Linked DNA regions of Homo sapiens. The protein of the gene in region 1 purifies or fractionates together with the protein of each later gene. This does not show direct contact. Each region holds a gene or a part of one and is shown in the gene's direction. Other genes may lie near its edges.

Region 1 (3,500 bases):
CAGTGAGGTGGTCAGAGCTGCCAGGCTGGCCCAGGGTTGGGGACCCTGCTCTAGAGAGCTGGCTTACTGCAGTGAGGTAGTCGGAGCTGCCAGGCTGGCCCTGGTTTCGTGCAGTCTTGTAGAGCCACCCCCGAGTCTCAAGACGCTAGAGCGTCCTCAGCAATACATTCCCCAAGTCCCTTCATGAAACTCAAGTCAGGGATTCTTCAAAAGTGCAGAGATACTTTGTCCAGGCGCGAAGTCAAGTTCGTGTTCATTCCAGAGAATGATTAACAACAGTACCTTCTCCATGGCATGGTAAGGGAAACATGCAATTCACAAGCCATGTTTATCATACAATTCTATAAACAGTTCATAAAGAGAAGAAAGGTTTTCTCTCTTTAAAAAGTTTGTATTTGTTTATTTTTTGAGATGGGGTCTTACTGTGTTGCCCAGGCTGGAGTGCAGTGATGCAATCACAGCTCACTACAGCCTTGACCTCCCAGGCTCAAGCAATCCTCCCATCTCAGCTTCTTGAGTAGCTTGGACCACAGGTGTGCACCACCACACCTGGCTAATTTTTAATTTTTTGTAGACAAGGGGGTCTCTCTATATTGCCCAGGCTGGTCTCAAATTCCTGAACTCAAGAGACCCTCCTGCATTGGTCTCCCAAAGTGCTAGAATTACAGGCATGAGCCGCTGCACCTAGCCTCTTTCTATGAAGTTTTTGGATTCAAAAGAGACCGGGAAGCTTGGCCCCACACTGTTATGAGGTGTGATCTGCTGGTGGTGGGGTTCTGGCTGGGTTTTTTTTCCTCGCTTTTCTCTGCTTATTCTAAAATTTCCACAATAGGCATGCATTGCTTTTATTTTGAAAAATATATAGATACCTGTATACATGGTTTTAAAATATATATGTAGTTTAAACTGTATATAAATATAAAATTGACAGTCCATCTCTGGCTGTCGTGCCCCCTGCTTTGTGTAAGTGGAGCAAGCTCTGTGCACCTCCCTGCAGCGCTGTCCCGGGCCTGCTTCCCACAGGTCAGTCTCTCCTTTGGCCTCTCCTGCAGGTCATCAACGGGCTGGTGCAGACCACCGGCTGGCCCAGCGTCGTCACCTGCCTCGGCAACTGGTTTGGAAAAGGAAGGTGAGAAAAAGCAGCCCTGTTTCCAATAGCAGATGAAAACTAGACCATTTTACTTTTAGTTTTTCTGTAGACTGATTACAGCAAAAACACTTTAGTATCCTCTTTAAAATAAGATGGCTGAAACCTCTGGGGCTTGAATTGCTGAAATTCAGATGGCCTGTGTCCCACGAGACAGGGGAGCTCCGCCCTCCCACTGTGGGCCTGGTGAAGTCCGTGTCACTCGGCGGCTCCTCTGACAGCTGCATCTGGCCTCCCAGGTGTTGTGGGAGATGCAGAGTCCAGGACCCTGCCCCAGGCCTTTTGAAGCCAAAGCTACATGTTAACATGGGAGTTTGGGAAGTCCCGACCTGGGTCACCCAGCGCACAGCACCAAAGTAGCAGAGCTGGGACCCAGCCTGGCGAGTCCAGATTTATTTGTAAATGGCTTTTATTTTATACAGATAAAATTTATTTATTTGTAAAATTCAGCTCAGCCAGGCCAAAGGCTTATTTATGGTGGACGATCGCAAACAAGATGCGGAAGCTAAAACGGGAACACCAGCGTCATCAGGTCTTAAGTCTTAGATACTGTGCCTCATTCACCTGGTGTGTGCATCCATGAGTTTTGTTCAAATGACAGTTCATCAAGTGACTGTATGTATTAATTGATTGTAGAGGCACAAATTTTAATTTCAGGCCTTCCAAGACTTTCAGGGAAAGGCCTCTTTCTTCTTCTTGAGTACAGAATGCGCTCAGAGCAAGAGGTAGAATGGGTGATGGCACAGCCTGAGGCCACATAAACACATCAGCTCTCGTGAGCATCGCGAGTCCTGCATGGCACAGAAGCAGGGTCTGCATGGCCCCCCGTTGATTCTGCGCCGACTCCCTACTTTGCAGGCACTGCTGCGCCCTGCACTGCTGGACTCGTTTCAGCTTCTCAGCTCCATCTTCTGTCTTCTGTTTTGTTGTGCTGCAGGAGAGGTTTGATTATGGGGGTCTGGAACTCCCACACCTCCGTGGGCAACATCTTGGGGTCATTGATCGCTGGCTACTGGGTGTCCACATGCTGGGGCCTGTCCTTCGTCGTGCCTGGAGCCATCGTGGCAGCCATGGGGATAGTGTGCTTTCTCTTCCTCATTGAACGTAAGTGCACGTGGCCTTGGAGACCACCCACCAAGGGAGGCCTCGGATTTCCCTGCCTGGGTGGGCCTTGGGGGCGAGTGTGAGAGCTGCGTGGCCTAGCGCCCTGTTTGCCCGTGGCTGCCTCAGCGCTCTTCTTACCAGGGAGACTTCCCCGGGGAGCCGGTTCTCTCCTGGTTTTGCTGGATTTCCTACTCTCCCCTGATTCTGGAGTGACCCATGTCCCCATTCCTTCCTCCCGTCCTCCTGTCCTCCCTTGCCCCGGCATCAGGAGTTCATGCATGGGAGTCTTCCATCTTCCCACAGGCTGTTCCTTCTCATGCCCATCTTGCCACCACAGCCTGAATTGGACCCAGTCAGCTCTTTGCCTTCTGATAAGATATATCTTGGACAGTGTTATAAAAGACTGACTTAATATCTTAACTGGGTAAAAAGTATCTCTTGGAAAATCAAATCTCTTATTCCATTTCAGATTCAATAGCAAACTCTTTATTTAATTGAATTTGAAATTCATTTCTGAAGTAGAGATCCAGCAGGCTCTGGTGCTGAGAAGATTCAGGACAGTTACAGCAAGAATAGAGATGCCCGGGTGGCCCTGGCGGTCACACGACAGGGGCTCGAATCCCGCAAGCCATTCTGATAAGCTGTACTCAACTCTTAGTTCTTTGACTGAGTTTAAACCATATGGCAGGAGACAGCTCCCTCATGCTGCCTGCCAGGTAGGGACACTCAGAGCCAGCTCCCTCCAGCCACACTGGGCATTGCTGATCACTTCAGCTCTGCATGCAAAAGTTCATCCATATTCCATTTAGTCGCTCACTTTTTTTGTCTTGCAAAAGCTAACCTTTTAATTTTTAAGGTAACCATCATCTGGCCACACTGTGAGTTTGGAGACTCTCACCCCATGCTTCTGTGTTGGTGAAAATGGAAATAAACATTCAGATGAGGAATGTCCAGACACACCCATTGGTGTGAGCAAAAAGTGGGGGCCCCGGGCTGCACTCCGCTCCCCTTTCCCCGCTTCTGCAGAGGCTGAGTAAGCCTTCGGCCACACCCCAAACAGCCTGAGCAGGGGCCTCCTGGGATGGGTGGGGGTCTGGATCCCTCCCAGTGGGCCAGCATGTGGCTTTCAGCTCTGGCTGGTGTGTCACTGCAGTTCTGAGAAAGGCCATTTCCACCACCTGTTTTCTTCCGCTCTGGTTCCTAGAACCTGGAGTTCTGTGCCCCTGCGCTCCAAGTGTTTGAGACACCA
Region 2 (3,500 bases), on another chromosome or scaffold:
TCTCTGCTAAAAATACAAAAAAAAAATTAGCCGGGCGTGGTGGCGGGCGCCTGTAGTCCCAGCTACTCGGGATGTTGAGGCAGGAGAATGGCATGAACCCCGGAGGCGGAGGTTGCAGTGAGCTGAGACTGCACCACTGCACTCCAGCCTGGGTGACAGAGCGAGACTCTGTGTCAAAAAAAAACAAAAAACAAAAAACTTTTTTTTTTTTTGTAGAGTTGGGGGTCTCACTGTATTGCCCAGGCTGGTCTGGAACTCCCAGACACAAGCCATCCTCTTGCCTTGGCCTCCCAAAGTGCTGGGATGACAGGCGTGAGCCACTGCGCCCAGCCAGGGGCCTGCTTTTCCCACTGAACTTGGCCCAGCAGCACATCATAAGTGTGGATTCAGATCAGAGAGCTGGGTCTCTTGCCCTTTGCCCCAGGTTGAACTGTGCCAGAGGGCCTGGCCTATCTTGGAACACCTGTTCTGGGCTTGTTCCAGCCTCCTGGCACTCCCCAGGGAAATGGCTTTCCCTGGGAGACCTTGTTTCCTTCCTCCCAAGGGGACTCTCTGGCCATCATGGCTGCCTCTAGCCATGTGGTGAACCAAAGGTCTGACTGAACCCTTGCTGTTCCCCTAGCTGGGCCTGCTGGTTGACCTCTCCCCAGATGGCCTGATGATCCCTGAGGACGGGGCTAACGATGAAGAACTGGAGGCTGAGTTCTTGGCTTTGGTCGGGGGCCAGCCCCCAGCCCTGGAGAAGCTCAAAGGCAAAGGTGAGATGGTTAACACACCCTCAGAACATTTTCTGATCTCCTGCAAGTGGTTCGGGCGCAGAACTGGGGGCACTGGGTAGGTAGGGGAAAGAAGACAGAGAAGACCCCTGTTCTCCTGGAGCCAATGATCTGGGTAAGAGAGTCAAGATCGACTCTGAGGCCGGGCACGGTGGCTCACGCCTGTAATCCCAGCACTTTGGGAGGCCGAGGCAGGCAGATCATGAGGTCAGGAGATTGAGACCATCCCGGCTAACACGGTGAAACTCTGTCTCTACTAAAAATACAAAAAAAAAAAAAAAATTAGCCGGGCGTGGTGGCGGGCGCCTGTAGTCCCAGCTACTCAGGAGGCTGAGGCAGAAGAATGGCGTGAACCAGGGAGGCGGAGCTTGCAGTGAGCCGAGATCGCACCACTGCGCTACAGCCTGGGCGACAGAGCAAGACTCCGTCTCAAAAAAAAAAAAAAAAAAAAAAAGATCAAGTCTGGACCGAGACTGAGAGTTGGAATCCGAGCTCTGCCACTTACTGGTTATGTGACTTGATGAGTCACATCATGTGCTTTGGCCTCAGTTTCACCATCTGTAAAACTGGAATAATAACCATGTTATAGGAGTTAATCTGGAGTCCATAAGTATTTCACCCAGGGCCCCCTCACACACAATAAGCTCATGTCAGCCAGGCACATTGGCTCATGCATGTAATCCCAGCACTCTGGGAGGCCAAGGTGGACAGATCACTTGGGGCCAGGAGTTCGAGACCAGCCTGGCCAACATGGTGAAACCCTGTCTTTACTAAAAATACAAAAATTAGCCAAGCTTGGTGGCGAACACCTGTAATCCCAGCTACTTGGGAGGCTGAGGCATGAGAATCGCTTGAATCCAGGAGGCAGCAGTTGCAGTGGGCAGAGATTGCGCCACTGCACTCCAGCCTGGGTGACAGAGCAAGATCCTGTTTCCAAAAAACAAAAAAGAGAGAAGCTTCATTCAGGCATGAACTACTGTGCTGTTGGCTGTGAATTCAAAGTTAATGAATGAACGATATCTATTCAGGAAGGTGTCTTCAAACAGAAACACACATAGAGCAAGGTTGTGTATTGATCAGTTGATTAAAATTTTGTGACCAGAGCTGGGTGTGGTGGTGCATGCCTGTAATCCCAGCTACTCGGGAGGCTGAGGCAGGAAGATCACTTGAGGCCAAGAGTTTGAGGCTGCAGTGAGCTCTGATTGGGCCACTGCACTCCAGCCTGGGTGACAGAGCAAGATCCTGTCTCCAAAAAAGGTTATGACTGGAGATTCACAGGAACCTAAGCTTAAATTTCCCCTAGGAGCAACAGTCTTATAGTCATTAATTTAGTCTTCAAAGCAGCTTTATAGAATGTAACATAACTAATAACAAGATATTGGCAATATGCTATTCTAAGAGCTTCATTGACCTTCTCTGCTCCAACCTACCTATGAAGGAGGAACTGTTGTCATCCCCGTGTCACAGAGGGAGAAACTGAGGCTCAGAGAGGTGACATCACTTGCCGAAGTTCTCACAGAGAGAAAGTTGCAGAGCTGGGGTTTTTTTTGTTGTTGTTGTGTGTGTGTGTTTTTTTTTTTTTTTTTGGAGACAAACCCTTGCTCTGTTGCCCAGGCTGCAGTGCAGTGGCGCAATCTCAGCTCACTGCGACCTCTGCCTCCTGGGCTTAAGTGATTCTCCTGCCTCAGCCTCTTTAGCAGCGGGGATTACACGCCACCATGCCCAGCTAATTTTTTTTTTTTTTTTTTTTTTTTTTTGAGACGGAGTCTCGCTCTGTCGCCCAGGCTGGAGTACAGTGGCGCGATCTTGGCTCACCGCAAGCTCCGCCTCCTAGGTTCACGCCATTCCCCTGCCTCAGGCTCCCGAGTAGCTGGGACCACAGGCGCCCGCCAGCATGCCTGGCTAATTTTTTGTATTTGTAGTAGAGACGGGGTTTCACCGTGTTAGCCAGGATGGTCTCGATCTCCTGACCTTGTGATCCACCCGCCTCGGCCTCCCAAAGTGCTGGGGTTACAGGCGTGAGCCACTGCGCCCAGCCTAATTTTTGTATTTTTAGTAGAGACAGGGTTTCACCATGTTGGCCAGGCTGGTCTTGAACGCCTGACTTCAAGTGATCCTTCTGCCTCGGCCTCCCAAAGTGCTGGGATTATAGGCGTGAGTCACTGTGCCCGGTCTGCAGAGCTGGGTTTTGAATTCAGGTAGCCAGGCCCCAGACCTGAGGCTGAATAAGGAAGAGATGAAATGGGGAAGTCAGCGAGAAGTGGGATCACCTAGCGTGTCCAGGATGGGAAATGGGGGCTCTTGGTGTACGACCCTGGTCCACCTGGGGCATCCCCCTACCGCCAGGTCCCTTGCCGATGGAGGCCATTGAGAAGATGGCCAGCCTGTGCATGAGAGACCCGGATGAGGATGAGGAGGAGGGGACGGATGAGGACGACTTGGAGGCTGATGATGACCTGCTGGTGAGCACTGAGGGCGGGGTGGGGGCTCTGATCCGGTTGCCCCCATCCAGCAGGCCCTTATATCCTGCCCTGGCTGTGTGTCCCTGCAGGCGGAGCTAAATGAGGTCCTTGGAGAGGAGCAGAAGGCTTCAGAGACCCCACCTCCTGTGGCCCAGGTACAGTTTGGATGACTCCACTCCCTTGAACCACAACCCAACGGACAGCCCGGGGTTCAAGACCTAGCCTTTTTTATGAGATGGAGTCTTGCTGTGTCACCCAGGCT
Region 3 (3,500 bases), on another chromosome or scaffold:
GGCCCCGGCTGCCTTTCTTCCTTTGGGACTAACAGCTATGTAGAAGAGGCAGCCCACCCCTAAGGTTCAGGCATCTGCTCAACTAAAGCAGCTGCGGTTCTGAGTTGGGTTAGAACATTGCAAGAGTTCATCAAGAGACGGGGGAGAGTTCGGAGGTCAGGGTGAGGTGAGTCCCAGAGGAGACCAAGAAGAAGTGATGTGAACTAGGTTTGGAGGGATGAGTAGGAGTTTGAAGAAGAGAGAAAGGACTTGAGATAGATAAAAACCAGTATGAATAAAGACTGGGAGGTGTTGTCACTTGTGAAGTATTCAGAGATGTGGCAGATCACAGAGGGCATTGAATGCCCTGTTAAGTACCTGTAATTTTACTCTGAGAACCCAGAGAGAAAACACCAAAGGTTTAAAGCTTGGATAGGGAGGGTGGAGTGTGCTGTGGTCAGGTTTATGTTTCCAGAAAATGCTCTGTGGCTATGGGAAAAGGATGGAGACAGGATGCCCAGTGGGGCAAGAGGGTGCAGGTAAGTAAGGTGAGAGAAGATGCTGGCTTTGATAGGTGGTAGCATGGTGCCATCTTGAAGGTACACTTGTCAGGACAGAATGATTTATTGGATGTGGGAGTGAAGGAGAGGAAGAGGAAGGAGTCCAGGTTCCTCGGAGTGGTTGAGCGGGCCTTCACTGAAGGCCCTGAAGCTTCACTGTGTTAGGGACTTGGTGAGGAGGGGCAGAGAATAAGCTCTTAGTTGGACATGTGGCCCTTGAGGTACTTGGGACATTGGAGGCTCAGTGGGGGAGGCACATCAAGGAGGGGCTTTGGTGTGAGGGTATGGGAGAGAAATGTCGGTCGGACCAAGAGAAGCGAGAGCTGTATGAGAGACCATAGAGCTGTGCACCTCGAGAGAAAGTAACCTCCGACAGTGGTGAAGAGCTCGAGTTTTATACTGCTAGGATTGGACTCTGTTTACTAGCAGCGTGACTTTAAGCAAGTGGCTTAACCTCTCTGAATCCGCTTCCTCATTTGTCAAATGATTATAATAAAAACCCGTGCCTTATAAGGGTTGTTATGAGGATTAAAGATAGTATGCATAAAGTGTGTGTAGCACAGGGCTTGGCATCTAGTGAGTACTGTTGTCTGTGTTTGCAGTTACTGTAATCATCCTCAACTGGGATGGTGTAAACCCACCCTCCCATCAGGGGTCACATGAGGTTGCCTTTAATGAGAAGATAGACTGCTAAGGTTAGGGTCCCTGTCTGCCTAAGGTTGCTGCAATTCTGAGCTGAGATTAGCAGGTCAAGGAGCTCAACAAAGGGGGTGCCTGCCCCTATTGTTATCGATGGGATTGTTTGTGTTGCTCAGGTGTTTGACCTTCAGGTGGGTGGGCTTGAGAAGACTAGAGGTGAGGCCTGCAGAAGAGACTCCATGTTTGGGGTAGGTGGAAGGGAATTTTGAGAAGGGGCAGCCTTGGGGTATTGAGTTCTCCATTTCCTCCCACCCTCCCTGGGCCCTGGGCTTCTACTGAGGCTCTTTCTGCCACCATCTGCCTCTGTGGTCCAGATGCACCATGTCTCTGTGTGACCGTGACTTCTAGGTCTGAGAACTCTGGTTTTAGCTCCTTAGCAGTATTTTAGCTGCTGTTTCTGGGGACTGTTCCTGGTGCAGCCACAGGGGCATTCTGGGGGTTGCTCCAGAGGGCAGCTGTGCCTGCATTCCCCTAGGTATCATCGACTTGCTCCTGACCCACTGCCGGGCCAGGTTTCAGGCCTGGCAGATGATGGGGAACCCTACTGGGGCCAGCCCTGCGTTGGCCCCAAGGGCTTTCTTTCTTGATATTGGACATGACTGTGGACTTCACCCCTTCTGAGGCCTTCCTGGGTGCCAAGCAGTGTGATTTCTTTCTTTTTCTCTTTGGTTTGAAACAGAATCTCACTCTGTTGCCCAGGCTGGAGTGTAGTGGTGCAGTCGTGGCTCACTGCAGCCTCCACCTCCTGGGCTCAAGTGATCCTCCCACCTCAGCCTCCTGAGTAACTGAGACTACAGGTGTAGTCCCACCTGGCTAATTTTTGTATTTTTTTAGAGACAGGGTTTTGTCATGTTGTCCAGGCTGCTCTTGAACTCCTGGCTCAAGTGATCCACCTGCCTTGGCCTCCCAAAGTGCCGGGATTACAGGGGTGAGCCACTGTGACTGGCCAGCAGTGTGATTTCTAACTTGGGTCCTGAACCATTCAGGCCCTTTCTGAGTAGCTTTCTAGTCAACCTTCCAGATGTCAGCTCTGGCTCTGTTCTGGGGGTGTATCTGGTTGTCCTGGTTGTTCTGGGCTCTGTCCCAGTGTGAGTGTAGAGTGGGTTCTGGGAGCTGCAGTTGGTGAATCTGAGTCTTTATTTGGTTGCCTGATAGGTTGTTTTGAGGTCAGTTTGATCCCAGACTGACGTGGTTCAAAGTTACTGTTTGGCTTTTCTAGGATCCTGCCCTCATGCTGTTCTGTGTGCCTCAGGGTCTTTGCAAATGTTTAGTCTTCTAAAATGGCCCCTGGCCACTTTGGGTACACACCTCTTTCCAGGTGTGGCTTCTGCTCCATGTAGGGCCTGTCTCAGTCTCCAAGCACGAGACCCTGCTGTGGCTGGGTGTGGCAGCAGCGCCTGGCCAGCTTGGGGGGCCTTTCCCATTACCCAGTTCCCTGCCTTGGACTCTGCCCCTCTGCCCAGGGTCTCTGCACAATGGTGCAGCCAAAAACCTCACTTGAATACTGTGAGGCCCTGCGGGCATCTCTAGACAAATGGGCCTTTAAGTTTGGGGCCTGGAAGCTGGTTTGTCTGGCCAGACCTGCTGGGCAGCCTGTATGCTGGGAGCAGCAGCTGCTGGAAACTCAGCTTGGGGAGCGGGGAGGGAAGCATGCAGAGAGGGCTGCGGGTTCTGGTGCAGGTAGGTGGGGCAGTGGAGGCTGGGTCGCCAAGCTGGCGAGGGCCATCTTGGGTCAGTTGGGATGGCCTTCAGTCGGTGAGAGTACCCCCATATTGGCAGAGGTGGTTAGTGCAACTTGAGGGTAATTCCCAGGTGCAGAGGTGTGTCCTTGATTTCATGATGAGGGTCAGTCTTGGGCCGGTGAGGACATTCCCACGCACCACCCTCCCACTGTGGTTTCTTTGTGTCCGTTATAGGAGGAGCCAAGGTGGCAGAGTGGTGTGGGGTGGGGATCACTGTGCATGTGGGGGCTTGAGGTGAGAAGCCTGCTGCAAGGTGCAGCTTGCGTCGAGTAGGCCAAACAGCTGAGCTTCCGTGAAGTGGTGATGAGGTGGTATGGGTGTGTCTGACCCCCACCCCCACCCAGGATGGTACCCACGCTGGTGGGGACTCAATAATGGCTCTAGAAGGAAGGGGCTGGGCTCTGTCGCTGCATGTGTGCCAGCGGAGGAGGCATCCAGGGGCACGCCTTCATTTTAAAAATTATAGAGTAGAGAAAGTCAAAAATAAATATTGCTTCTGAAGCTTCTTTGAAGACTGGCA
Region 4 (3,068 bases), on another chromosome or scaffold:
TGGAGAAGAAACTAAAAGTTATGGCCATAGAAAAAGCCCTGGTAAGAAAATATTTGAATGGTGTAAGATGGTGGAAGGAAAGCCATCCCACACCCCTACAACATATGTTCTGGCATTTATAAACTGCTTGATTGTGTGCCTCAAGGGGAGAAAAAGTCAAGCAATGCTTCAAAGGCCAGGCTTTCTAAGCAAATGAGTGGTTCAAAGCAGTGTTTGGCTCAAGGGCAGTCTGGTTTTATGGATAGGGCCGACCCAAGACATCTGCTCATGAAGAAATGTGGCATCTGTTGCCATTTCCTAAACTATAAGGTTTAGATAGATTGTCTTGAATTTTGATAGCAAATTTTTTTAAATTTATATTTCTGCCTCCTCGTACATCCTTATATATGGAAAAAAAAGTAAGAGTTCCTCAGATCAGAGCTCAGTAGCTGTGTCAATTTGAAGTTCAATCAGTGTAGTTGTCCTGGGGTGATCGCTGACTCTGCTCTGTTTCATATTTCAGTTGCTTGCTCCAAGGAGAGAATTTCTGAGAACAATGGGTGTTAGCAACTTTAAGTTACTCCCCAAACGTTTGCTGGCCACATTCTCATTTCTAAACATCTGGATCTGGGTAAAGGTTTGAATAGATGTAGGGAACAAAATTGGTTTTTCCATGGTGTAGTCTAATTTTGCCAAATCACCCAAGAAAGAAAGTATATGACGTGTGGAGTTTGCATTTCTTGGATGGGACCTATCGGGTCACCCAGCCCAGTCTTACAGTCATAAATTCCTACCTCTTAGTTCCTGCCAAAGGGCCTTCAGCCTCTGTGTGCACACTTATTGAATGAATGCTTTGCCTAAAGTTTGGCCTTTTGAAGAAAAACAGCATGTGATAATATAAAAATATGAGAGTTTAAAAAAAAAAAAGATCTCTGCCTCTCTTCTCTCTGCCTCGTCCCACCTTGCTGTCTGTCTCATTGTCTTTCTCTCCCCTCACCATGCGCTGAATTCAGATTTCTCTTTCTTTTATTATAGGCATGTTGTTTTGAATGTGGACTTTGTGGGAGGGAGAGGATTGTTCTGAGAACAGAAACTGGAAGATACGTCTGAGTTGATGGGACCAACAGGGCTTTGCTCCTCTGTGAGGGCCAAAGCCATTGATACTTGTCGGGGGTGATGAGGGCTTTAGCATCTCAAGGCAGACATATGAAGTATTTACTGCTAAACTATATTACTTACTAGTACAAATCTGTTGGAATTCAGGGGCAGTCTAAGATTTGGTGAGTGAAATGCCATCTGGCAAAATCGAGAAGAGAGTGTGGCCTGAGAGGGGAATGTTCAGCCTCACTGTCACATTAAGGGTACCTCAAAATACATGGTCCTTCCAGTGTGTTCCTTTTCCTTCCTCCATTTCACTTTGTCCCCTCTTCTTCCTTTCTCTCCCATTTTCCTGGCTTTTTAGCACTCAGCTTTTTTTTATAAGTATGTATTTACTTTTTATTATATATTTGGTCCTTTGGGACTTTGTGATGATTAAGAATTTATTCCATTCAGGATTTTAAAATGATGTGTTTAATATTTTGTTCTCTTAAACTCTTTTGAAGCTATGCTGCTAACCAGGTATAGGCCAGAAAGGAGGTGGCCCAGTCAGTACCTTGCTCACGTCAGCTAAGGGGGACAGTGATGTCATGTGGGTGACTCTTCTTCATTTGACCAAGGCCAGCCTCCTGTTCTTACCTCTGCCCATTCATTTCTGGCTATGGGAAAACTACCACCTGTTGAGTGAGCCAATGAGGCCAGGAAGATCAGAGGGGCTGGGTTCCGGCCCATGGGCCACTATTTGAATTTCTCTGTAGTAAGCTCTTTGTAGGGCTGGCTCCAACTGCAGTAGCCAAAGAAAACCTGTCTGACTCGACATTTTAATGCCTGAGAGTTGGTGAAAGTTCAGCTGAAGCTAATGTCTAGACATCAGCAGTAACTAGGCATCCAGAAAGTAGCTTCAACCAAAGCTAATAGAGCCCAAGTTTCCGCAGGAAGTTTGGTGCTGAGCTGTCCAGAGCAGTTGTTTATCTGAGTGTTGCTAGCCCTTAGCCATGCTTTCTTAGCTTTATTCTCGCCTGTTCCTAGGCATAGCCTGAACCAGAGCTATGGCTCACTGCTCGCTTTATTCTACTCCCTAGTCATGCGGAACAACATAGTCTAAAAAGGAAGATGTGGACTGGGGAGTTAGGAGACCTGATTTCTATTCCCTATGCTTCTACTAACTAGCCTCGAGATCTTAACCGCTCTGTGCCTCAGTGTTCCCATCTGCAAAATGGGGATAGTGTTAATTGCCCTACCTACCTCACAGGGTTGTTGTGAGGATAAACTGAGACAATGAATTCAAAGCAAGTTGACAAGTAAGTGCTATGCAAATTGTAAGAAATGGAAACAATCATGTTAAAAGCAATGGAATGGACATTGGCAGAAGGGTTAATGGATTGTCCAGCCCTTTCTCTGTGTGGCTTAAACCCAGGTCGCCATTGCTTTATACATTTTCACTTAGCACAGATTTGTAATTATGCATGTAATAAAGCACAGCCTTATCCACCCTGGTGTCTGGTGTGTTTCTAAAGACCCTAAACTTGGTAGCTATTGATTTCTGATCAGAAAACCACAGGGGCAGAGTGGAAGGTTCAGGGGAGGGTAGCACAAAACACAACTGCAAACCCCTACTGGCAGGCCCACTGCTTAAAAAGATTTATTAAATAGTTATTTTCACATTTACAGACTCAGTAATACTCTTTACCATAAGGAGGCAAATAAGAGGCAGCTTGCGTTTTTGGAGATGTTCCAGATACCCGGATACCTCATTCATTGTGGCTACTTAAATGTTCCTGTCTCATACATTGGTGATACTTTCCTGATGATGTGAGAATTGGCTGGGAGCTGTATTTTTCTCTCTCTTTGAGCTCTTAATGATGTAAGGTCGTGGGCTTTGACAGGCCTCTTGCCTACAGCTACTTTGTACAAGGAGGAGGATGGGTAATCAAAACGGTCCTCCCATGAATACTAGGATTCTTAGTACCCTCTTTATGGTGTATTGGGAT
Region 5 (3,500 bases), on another chromosome or scaffold:
GAACATTTGCTCCTAGGGGCTGGAGGGAGCTGCCGTAGGGAGGGTGAGAGGAAACTGAGGCTTCCAGAGACACCCTGTCTGCAGACGGCAGGTAGCTGTTGCATGCACCTCATCCCATTTAATCCTGGATGTTACTGGCTCCATTTCACAGATAAGGGGACTGAGGCTCAGTGAGGTTGAGAGGAGGTAGTGGGGCTGGATTACAGGGGAGGGGTCACTGATGAGTGAGAAAGGTGGGTTGGGGGACTTCCCTGAAAGCCTCTCTTTCTCTGGAACCCAGGCATCTGGGCCTCCTACTTTTCTGGCTGCCCCCAAATGTCTTTGCTAAGCAACGTAGCTGAACAGTGCCAAGAGATGGCAGTCCCTAAGGTATAACAGGAGGCACCCCCTTCTCCCCATGGGAATTGGATGCAAAGAAGGGAGAAGCCCATGACGATGTTCCCTGTGGGCACGTGGCCAGGAGTACTTGAGAAAGGCAGGGGGCTGAATCGGGACAGGAGCTGGTGTGAGGTGCGGTGGGCAGGAAGCAGCAGGCCTGGGGGCTTTCAGCCTTCAGGAAGCAGGCTGCAGGGAGAGGTGTGCAGGACACAGAGCAAGAGGAGGCAAACTCAAGCCAGTCCTGGCTCTTTGGCCCTGGGCTCCTCCACTGACCCGGGACGGGAAAGAAGCCGTCATCCCTCCGTGGAGAGTATGCAGATGGGCATCAGTGGAGGGTCCAGGGACCAGAACAATGATGACGTGCGTAGAAGGGGACTGCAGGGCCATCAGATTCAGCTGCATGTGAGGAGGAATAATCAGTCATTGAACATGTAAACAACTTTGCAGAAAATCAACCCCTCCATCCTTTCCCTGTCGCAGCTTTCTGTGGCCTTTTCTGACCCCGATCTGTGTATAAACAGAGCTTTCCCAGTTTGTCATCATCATGCATATGCAATTTAGGCCCCACCTTTCATCCACATTATTTCCCTGACATTTTGCTGTGAACACTGGACTCCTCGTGTTTATTATTTTAAATCAGCGCTTTATAGTCAGCGAGTTTTTCTAGAGAGGAAACGGAAGCCCAGGGCTGGGCCAGGGGTGGGTAACTGGGTAGTTTTATATGCACATGCAGGCACACACACACACACACACATGCACACACACACACACATGCACACACACACACACATGCACACACACACACACATGCGTGCTCACTCCTGGGCTTGGTCTGCCCAGCCTTCTGGGTAAACCCTCCGTCAGATGGAATGGCTGGGATGCCAGGGTTATTGGCATTCTGCAGTTTCTTCATAAACAAACAGCAAATCCCACGAGGGTGGTCTAATGCTGGGTAAATATTCCAACACCACCCTCTGCCCCTGGCTGCCCCCCCACCAAATTACACATTCTTTTTGTTTTTTCTTTTTTTCTTTTTCTTCTTCCTTTTTTTTTTTTTCAAATAGAGACAGAGTTTCACCATGTTGCCCAGGCTGGGCCTGAACTCCTGAGCTCAGGCGGTTCACCCACCTCGGCCTCCTAAAGTGCTGGATTACAGGTGTGAGCCACCATGCCCAGCCATCACCAAATTACACGTTCTTGATAATAGATTCCACGGGTATGTGCTATCACCAACACGGAGACTCAGAGACACATTGTGCGTAGGTCGAGGCCCATGAGCAGGGACAGTGAGGAGGTGGCTGTGTTTACTGAGCTCTTGCTCTGTTACAGTTTAGTGCCTTCTGGCAAGAGGCAAATATTATTTCCATTTTACAGATCAGGAAACTGAAATGGGTGACAACTGAAATGACTTGTCCAGGGCCACATGCCTAGTAAGAGGCAGAGCAGGATTGGAGCCCAGGTCAGTAGGATTTTGGAGTTCCTTCTCACTGGAGTCATAAAAGAACCCATTAGGCGGTGACCAGTAGCTCATGCCTGGAATCCCAGCACTTTGGGAGGCTGAGGCAGGAATATCACTTGAGGCCAGGAGTTCAAGACCAGCCTGGGCAACATAATGAGACCCCATCTTCATACACACACACACACACACGTACACAACCACCAAAAAAAATTCAGCTGGGCTTGGTGGTGTGTGTGTGTGTGTTTTTTTTTTTTTTTTTTTTTGAGTCTGTCTCCCAGGCTGGAGTGCAATGATGCTATCTTGGCTCACTGCAGCCTCCGCTTCCCAGGTTCAAGCAATTCTCCTGCCTCAGCCTCCCAAGTAGCTGGGATTTCAGGCACCCACCACCATGCCTGGCTAATTTTTTTTGTATTTTTAGTAGAGACAGGTTTTCACCACAGTAACCAGGCTGGTCTCGAACTCCTGACCTCAGGTGATCCACCTGCCTCGGCCTACCAAAGTGCTGGGATTACAGGCATGAACCACAGCGCCCAGGCTGATGGTGTGTGTCTTGTACAGGAGGCTGGGGAGGGGGATGGCTTGAGCCCAGGAGTTTGAAGTTACAGTGAGCTCTGATCATACCACCCCACTGCAGCCTGGGGAACAGTGAGACCCCATCTCAAAAAAAAAAAAAAAAAAAAAAAGAACCCTTATATCTTCCCTCGGAGCCTGTTGAGATAGTTCCAACGGGGTTAGGGTTTTGGTTTCTCAACCCACAAGCATTAGAAGGAGCAATTTGGGGGATGAGGAGGTGTTTTTGGGGGCATCTTCAAGGAACAGAGATGTCTGGGGTGTTGAGTGTTGCAACCAACAGCCCTCATATGCACCTTCTCTGGCTGTAGGAGGCGTTGTTACATTATAGGACAGCATAGTAACTGATGTGCATAATGGTGACCAACTCATCAAGAAAATATTAAGGCCAGGCGCGGTGGCTCACACCTGTAATCCCGGCACTTTGGAAGGCCGAGGTGGGTGGATCACGAGGTCAGGAGATCGAGACCATCCTGGCCAACATGGTGAAACCCTATCTCTATTAAAATACAAAAAATCAGCCGGGCGTGGTGATGCACGCCTGTAGTCCCAGCTACTGGGGAGGCTGAGGCAGGAGAATTGCTTGAACTTGGGAGGCAGAGAGTGCAGTGAGCTGAGATTGTGCCTGGTGACAGAGGGAGACTCTGTCTCACAAAAAAAAAAAAAAAAGAAAAGAAAAGAAAGGAAATATTAAATTGCATTTAGCATAAAGTGTAGTGTAGTATCTAAAAACATTTTCCTCGGGAATGGATAACACAAGTTTGAACAAATAAGGATTATATTTGGAAATTCAGTAATGTGGGATGGCTCATTACTCAGTGTTACTGAGTATATGTCCATTTATTCACCATGTGTTTTAGTTATCCACTGCTGTGTAACAAACAGCCCCAAAATTTGGAGGCTTAAAAGAGTAACAGTTTAAACCTGGGCAACATGGCAAAACTCTTGTCTCTACAAATGGTACAAAAATCAGCCAGGCATGGTAGCATGTGCCAGTAGTCCCAGCTACTCAGAAGGCTGAGGTGGGAGGATTATGAGCCCCGGATGCTGCAATGAGCCATGATCGTGACACTGCACTCCAGCCTGGGTGACA
Region 6 (2,937 bases), on another chromosome or scaffold:
TTGTGGGTGGAAATTTCCTTTTAAGCAAGAACAGTGTACTATATTGACTGACCATGTCTTCCAAGGTATTGTCCCTGAGAACCAGGATGTAGACAAGTGTTCTTAGTCTAACTGAGTGAATTAAAAAAGTGTGTTGGCGTGAATGGCCATGTGCATTTTCAAGGAGGAGGGGCATGCGCCAGGGCCTATGGAATTAACATTTTACAAGCATATACGTAACATTTGTCTGTAGGTCAGAAAGGGACTGCTAGGTGTGCATGTTTCCCAAGTCTGAAACTTGCCCTGGAAGCAGCAGCAGGGTGTGGGTGGTGGTTCAGAGGAAAAACGCTGTTGGAACATTAGACATGTGCAGTAATCAGTTATCTTCACAATCTGCAATCAGTTGCAAGAATTTCTCAGGCCTTAAAATTTGTAAAAGAAGCAGTTGTGTTTGCTTTGTGCCTTATATAACTATCCCACGTAATACTTTGAAATATCAATGTCTTCGTTGAAAAGCTTGAAAACATTTTACTTGAAGTGTGTGAGTGAAGGGATGAGGATTCTAAGGAGTGGTGATTAACAGCTTGGGGAGAGTGCCCATCATTCCCTGAACCCTGCTCTGTGTGATCTGGCCAGCTGGCTCCCAGGTTTTTTTATCCATGCCGGAAGAGCCAATAAAAAGATAAAGTCAATTACTAGGAGAGGCCACAAGTGCCTGCCAGAGTTCTGATGTATTTTCTCAAATGAAAGGGCCAAATAGAGATGTCAAGCAGGCCTGAGTTGAGCACTGGCTTTCTGCCAGTAGCTGTGTGCCCTCTTTGGGCCGCAGTCACTTTACTGGTAAAATGAAGTCACATCACCTATCACTTCCCCTTCTCTCCACTGCACACCCCCAGTACAAGCCATAGTCATACTGTATGTAGCCACTGTAGGAGCGTCCTAACTGCTCTCCCTACTTTGAATCTTGCCTCCCTAAAATCCATTCTCTACCCACCAGCCAGAGTGGTGGTGAAGCTCACCATCTTTATCTGAAACCATCTTGTGTGTTTGTTATTGTCTCTCTGACCTCCCCACTCCAGAATGCAATCTTCACAGTCTCTGTTCTATCCTTTTGGTCATTACTCTCCTCCTAGCCACTGACACCTCTCATTTTCTCCTGTTCTCATTCTTAATTTTAGCAGTTTTTTTCCTGAGCTAGTTTGAAATGGGAGTCAGAAAACCTGGGGTCTAGTTTTAGTTCTGTGACTTCCTTGTTGGCCCTTAGTTAAGAAAGTCACTTCACTTCTCCAGGCCCCAGTTTCCTTCCCTGTGAAGCTGAGTGTAAGAGTCAGCAAGCACTGCAGTAACAAAGGACCGCAGACTGCATGGCTTAAACAACAGAAATTGGTCTTCTCACAATTCTGGAGCCTCAGAAGGCCAAGACCAAGGTGTCTTCTGAGGTCTCTCTCTTGGCTTGCAGATGGCTGCCTTATCACCATGTCTTCACTGTGTCTTCCCTCTGTGTGCGTCTGTGTCCTCATCGCTTCTTTTTATTAAAGACACCAGTTATATCGGAGTGTAGCCAACCCTAAAGACCTCATTTTACTGTAATTACCTCTTTAAAGGCCCTCTCTCACAGTAGTCGCATTCTGAAGTACTGGGGGTCAGGGCTTCAACATGGAGGTGGCATAATTCATTCAGCTCATAATACTAAATTATATCTAAGACTCCTTTCAGCTCTACAAAATTATATTTTAAATCGGGGATCTTTCTCCTTACACCCATGTTCCCTTCTACTCCCCTGAGATAATAGCTTGGTTCATATGCCTCCCCGTTTTTAGTACTCATGCATATCCTCACTGTATTTTTGAAGGGTTTAAAAGTCTGTGTATGTGTCTAGCAATCATATAAATAAGTTAAGGTCAACTGAAGTGGGAGGATGTATATATAAAATGTTAAATGGAACAAAAAAAATAGCCTCTGAGGAGGGATTTTAATTTTACTGTTTTTTTTTCTATATATAATAAAAAAAAATTTTCCCTCCTACAGCTGGAAACTGACAAACTAGCTCTCCCGATGAGCCCCAGCCCGCTTAGCCCGAGCCCCATCCCCAGCCCCAACGCGAAACTTGAGAATTCCGCTCTCCTGACGGTGGAGCCTTCCCCACAGGACAAGAACAAGGGCTTCTTCGTGGATGAGTCGGAGCCCCTTCTCCGCTGTGACTCTACATCCAGCGGCTCCTCCGCGCTGAGCAGGAACGGTTCCTTTATTACCAAAGGTACGGGCATCGCAGCAGACCTCACACACGCACTTAAACCCCCCAAAGAGCCCCTGGGATTCGTCCCTCCCCGTCCACAGTCCAGTTGTAGCTGAGAGTTGAGTCATCTGAATTACCTGCCCAGGAAGACCAGTCCAAAACTTCAAGATACGCTGGCCCGAGAGTAACCTCGCCATTGGCTGGCGAAGACACGCCTCCAAAATCTTTGCAGCTCGCACTGCCCGGTGGAGAGCTATCGGCCACCCTTTATCCTCATGATGCTATCAAATGTGTGTTTCGGGGAAGGCCTGATAAAATGTAGTCTGGCAAGATTTTTGAAAATTATTTACCAAGCTTGCTGTATCCAAAGATTTAAAGTTGAACTTATCTTGAGAGTCAGAAGTACAGGTTTTAGGCCGTGCGCAGCAGCTCACGCCTGTAATCCGAGCACTTTGGAAGGCCGAGGTGGGCGGATCACTTGAAGCCAGGAGTTAGAGATGAGCCTGGCCAACATGGTGAAACCCCATCTCTACTAAAAAAAAAGAAAAATTAGCCCGCTGTAGTTCCAGCTACTCAGAGGCTGAGGCAAAAGAATCACTTGAACCTGAGACGCGGAGGCTGCAGTGAGCTGAGATTGTGCCACTGTACTCCAGACTGGGTGACAAGAGCAAAACTTTGTCCCAAAAAAAAGAAAACTACAGGTTTTAGTGACTTAAAAATAC
Region 7 (3,374 bases), on another chromosome or scaffold:
CCTAGTGTGATGTGATATAGTCTTTGTCTTTCATGCTGCTGGGACAGAAAAGACCCGACATTGCTTCAGAAACCGTTCAGAACAGTCTGCCTGTAAACACATGGAACTGAATTACCACATGAACACTGTCATCTTTTCTCATGAAAGTAAAAAGAACCAAGAACATTTTTCACTCTGATTTTTTATTTCTTGTATTTTTTGTTGAGCTGTTTTAACACATATTGGTTTTTGAATGCAGTCAATCTCCAGGGGAAAAGTTAACAAGTTATCTTTCGTAGCAGAAACCATTTTGCTGCCACAAAATTTTCATCATCAGAACTAATAAATCAAGTGTTCCAAATACAATTTGCATTAAAAAGATTGGCATTATTTTCCTCATCAGCAGAATTTATAACAGTGTGTGGTATCTAGAAATACTTATATATACAATTCCACACTGGAAGACACTCAGCAATTAATGAAGTTAATTACTGGGCCAACTTGAGAGGAAAAAATGGAAAAGAAACTAAAATGTTGGGTGAATTCTACCAAAGTCAGCCGTGGTGGCTGCACTGGCACAGAATACTAAACTGAGTGTGACTATTTTCACTGCAACAAATGAAAAAACAAAATGTGCCTGTTTAAAGCACTCAGTAGAGGGCTGATGAAACTAATTTTTTTTCCTTTAAGACATGCACTCTTGAGTCCTACAGTAACTGAGTGTTTGTTTAGACAGCACAAGAAGGGGTGAGAGTGCGTCTCCTAGCCTTAATGTGGGAGGGTAGTTTCAGTCACTCATCGGCTTTCATTATTGTGCAGAAATATTAGAAAACCTCATTGATCAATTTTATGTATTTGAATATCAGCAAATTGAAATTTTCCATAATTATCATTAATTTGTAACCACATCCAGTGTCATGCTTACTCCTTAGAGTTCAGATGAATTCTTAAAATTAAAAAAAAACTCCATAGTACTAATTTTGTTTCTTTATATAGTTTGCGTTTGATATTAGTGCTTGCAATTGTATTAAAGTCAAAAGCTGATTTTTATGGCATACACAAGAATGCCACTTTTTCTTTTATTTCATACCAATAATTTAAAGATTGATATGCTAAAAACAATTTGCACAGCACTAAAGCATGAGCTACTTTCATCTAAACCTGTAAAAATATGAAAGATTTTTATATTTTTTCACTGGGAAGAAATTCTTCCTGGATGAAATTACAAATATGTGTAGAATATATTTAATAAAAGACTTATAAAATACCTAACTACAGGACTTAAAATATAGATTGGCGCGTAGTATACAGAACAATATTCCATATAAATAAGTTTAGCCTTTATAAAAATGAAGTTGCAGGCTGACATTACATTCTGTACTAAGTGTCAACAGCCCTTACAAACATTAAATGTAAATGGTTTCAAATGGTCAGCGTTGTTTAAATGTAATCATGTTATTTTATTCATTGTTAATGCTTTGATGAAAAGGCTTTATATGCAGTAGATCTACGAAAATATTGTTCATACTGATCAGAATTAAATTTGTATAGAGCAGAGTTTTAAAATGAATGTAAATAGCACTAAACGTTTTCTTTCTGCAACCTGTACTTACAGATTCTTCCTGTAAACTAAATAAAAAAAAAATGATAGTGCATTTTGGTGGTAATTTTAAAGGTCTTGATTAGGTCAATAATTGTTTAAGCACCGTCTCATTCATGTTTTCTACTTTCATTTCTTAAGCTTTTAAAATTCATTTAATTAATATTCTGTTGTTGTTTTGGGGAGTATTCCCAATGTATCTTTGATATTTAACCTGGTTAATTTGTGGACAGTCACAACAATGGATAGAATTATGTAGTCTCCGTTATCACTAAAATGTTATCTTCAAGAGATGTTAAATATTTATATGCTTTGTTGACTAGCTGAAATGTGAATTCTGTTAGTGTTGACTAAAGAATCTGGTAGTTGCTTAATTGGGCAATTAAACAATTTATGGCTCTATTTTGTAAAACAAACTACTGGTAATTATTTTTAATACCTATTTTCATTCTGATTACTCTTTTTTTAAGTTAAAGACTATCAGTTAATTAAGATTGAGTTTTTATGATGGTTAAAAATAATTCTCTATTGGTTTTTCAATATATTTTTCTGTGTGTTCTCAGATTATATATTTCCCTCAATTTAGAGTTTGCTAAGTGAAATAAACTGGTTCACTAGTAGAGAAAGAATTACGTCGCTTAATACCTAATATCATAGTTGTACAATATGAAAAAAAAGAATAAAAAGTAGCAGTAAAATTATATACTGAAAACACCAAAAATTTAGATGCCTTAATAGTATATACGTGAAATACTCAGCTGTCCCTTTAAAAATAATTCCTTGGACTGCCTGGTGGTTAAAATACGATTCCTCATATCCAAGGCTACTTTTGAAGATCCCTCTGCCAAAAATATAGCTCACTTATCTAAAGGTGAGAGCTGCATAGATCCAGTAATGTACATAAAGCCTGAATGATGAGCCTATGTCCCTGCCTAACGCTGGTGTCTCACTCATCTCTTTTACCTAAATTGTCCTGAACTTTGTTAAGTGTTCTGGACAAGGCCAAGCTTTTCTTTATTAAAACCTCAGCATGTCTCCCTGATCTGAACTATTTGCTTTCTCTTCAAGATAAGTTGTATTTTACCATGGAAAAATACAGTATCTAACATTACCATTCACGTTAAATGAAGTTTCCTCATAACATTTATCTTTAGTTTTATGAAGTCATCGTGACCAATGTTACAGTAATTTCTGTTAGCTGATTGTGGTAAACAATGTTTAATGTGAAAAGAAATTAAAACTTTCTTCATCTGTTGTAGAATATTTCTCTTCTTTAAAATGGCTTCTATTCATAATTCTGGTGTATTTGCCTATTCTTTATTTCACTACTGTTTATGTCTTTTTTTCTTTCTTCAGTTAATGATACTCTTCAGTAAAAATCAACATTGAGCCAGCCTTTGCTATAGTTTAGCAAAATCAAAGGGAAGTATCAGCCAAAATTTAATATGCCTTCATACCGTTTTTATTTGTAACTTTTTCGAGCATTCCAGTTTGTTTTCCATTTTTGTGTTATAATATGGTCACTTGTTAGCCAAATGGAGTGATTGGGGTGGAGTGATTGGGGTGGGGGAGAAGGCACATGACCTATAATTACAAACACAGCTATAATTGAAACACAGCTGCAGGCTGTGCTGGAGTCTAGGCACAGTTTTTGTGGCCAGGGTAGGGTGGGGTTCTTGGGTGTGAGCAGTGGTAGTTGGGTGTGACTCCTGGCTTACCCTGACCCCCTGCCAGTTGGTGTGTTTCCTTCAGAAGGCAGTGGCTTCTATGAGGCTTTTACACAGGAGGTGGTTGA

The links.
Region 2: the proteins of SLC37A1 (region 1) and CC2D1A purify together in Homo sapiens (affinity purification with mass spectrometry; one large-scale study listed by BioGRID and IntAct). This does not show direct contact.
Region 3: the proteins of SLC37A1 (region 1) and PTPRF purify together in Homo sapiens (affinity purification with mass spectrometry; one large-scale study listed by BioGRID and IntAct). This does not show direct contact.
Region 4: the proteins of SLC37A1 (region 1) and CLCN5 purify together in Homo sapiens (affinity purification with mass spectrometry; one large-scale study listed by BioGRID and IntAct). This does not show direct contact.
Region 5: the proteins of SLC37A1 (region 1) and ADCY3 purify together in Homo sapiens (affinity purification with mass spectrometry; one large-scale study listed by BioGRID and IntAct). This does not show direct contact.
Region 6: the proteins of SLC37A1 (region 1) and TNFRSF21 purify together in Homo sapiens (affinity purification with mass spectrometry; one large-scale study listed by BioGRID and IntAct). This does not show direct contact.
Region 7: the proteins of SLC37A1 (region 1) and UBL3 purify together in Homo sapiens (affinity purification with mass spectrometry; one large-scale study listed by BioGRID and IntAct). This does not show direct contact.

Annotation. Positions count from the first base shown.
Region 1 is NC_000021.9:42,541,352-42,544,851, forward strand, and holds part of SLC37A1 (glucose-6-phosphate exchanger SLC37A1), read left to right. Parts: intron 1-1,052; coding exon 1,053-1,129; intron 1,130-2,084; coding exon 2,085-2,251; intron 2,252-3,500. UniProt on the Homo sapiens protein: Inorganic phosphate and glucose-6-phosphate antiporter. May transport cytoplasmic glucose-6-phosphate into the lumen of the endoplasmic reticulum and translocate inorganic phosphate into the opposite direction. Independent of a lumenal glucose-6-phosphatase.
Region 2 is NC_000019.10:13,909,201-13,912,700, forward strand, and holds part of CC2D1A (coiled-coil and C2 domain-containing protein 1A), read left to right. Parts: intron 1-622; coding exon 623-758; intron 759-3,122; coding exon 3,123-3,238; intron 3,239-3,327; coding exon 3,328-3,393; intron 3,394-3,500. UniProt on the Homo sapiens protein: Transcription factor that binds specifically to the DRE (dual repressor element) and represses HTR1A gene transcription in neuronal cells. The combination of calcium and ATP specifically inactivates the binding with FRE.
Region 3 is NC_000001.11:43,533,883-43,537,382, forward strand, and holds part of PTPRF (receptor-type tyrosine-protein phosphatase F isoform 1 precursor), read left to right. Parts: intron 1-3,500. UniProt on the Homo sapiens protein: Possible cell adhesion receptor. It possesses an intrinsic protein tyrosine phosphatase activity (PTPase) and dephosphorylates EPHA2 regulating its activity.
Region 4 is NC_000023.11:50,096,663-50,099,730, forward strand, and holds the end of CLCN5 (H(+)/Cl(-) exchange transporter 5), read left to right. Parts: 3' UTR 1-2,568; downstream 2,569-3,068. UniProt on the Homo sapiens protein: Proton-coupled chloride transporter. Functions as antiport system and exchanges chloride ions against protons. Important for normal acidification of the endosome lumen. May play an important role in renal tubular function.
Region 5 is NC_000002.12:24,910,238-24,913,737, reverse strand, and holds part of ADCY3 (adenylate cyclase type 3), read left to right. Parts: intron 1-3,500.
Region 6 is NC_000006.12:47,233,969-47,236,905, reverse strand, and holds part of TNFRSF21 (tumor necrosis factor receptor superfamily member 21 precursor), read left to right. Parts: intron 1-2,007; coding exon 2,008-2,236; intron 2,237-2,937.
Region 7 is NC_000013.11:29,763,871-29,767,244, reverse strand, and holds the end of UBL3 (ubiquitin-like protein 3), read left to right. Parts: 3' UTR 1-2,874; downstream 2,875-3,374.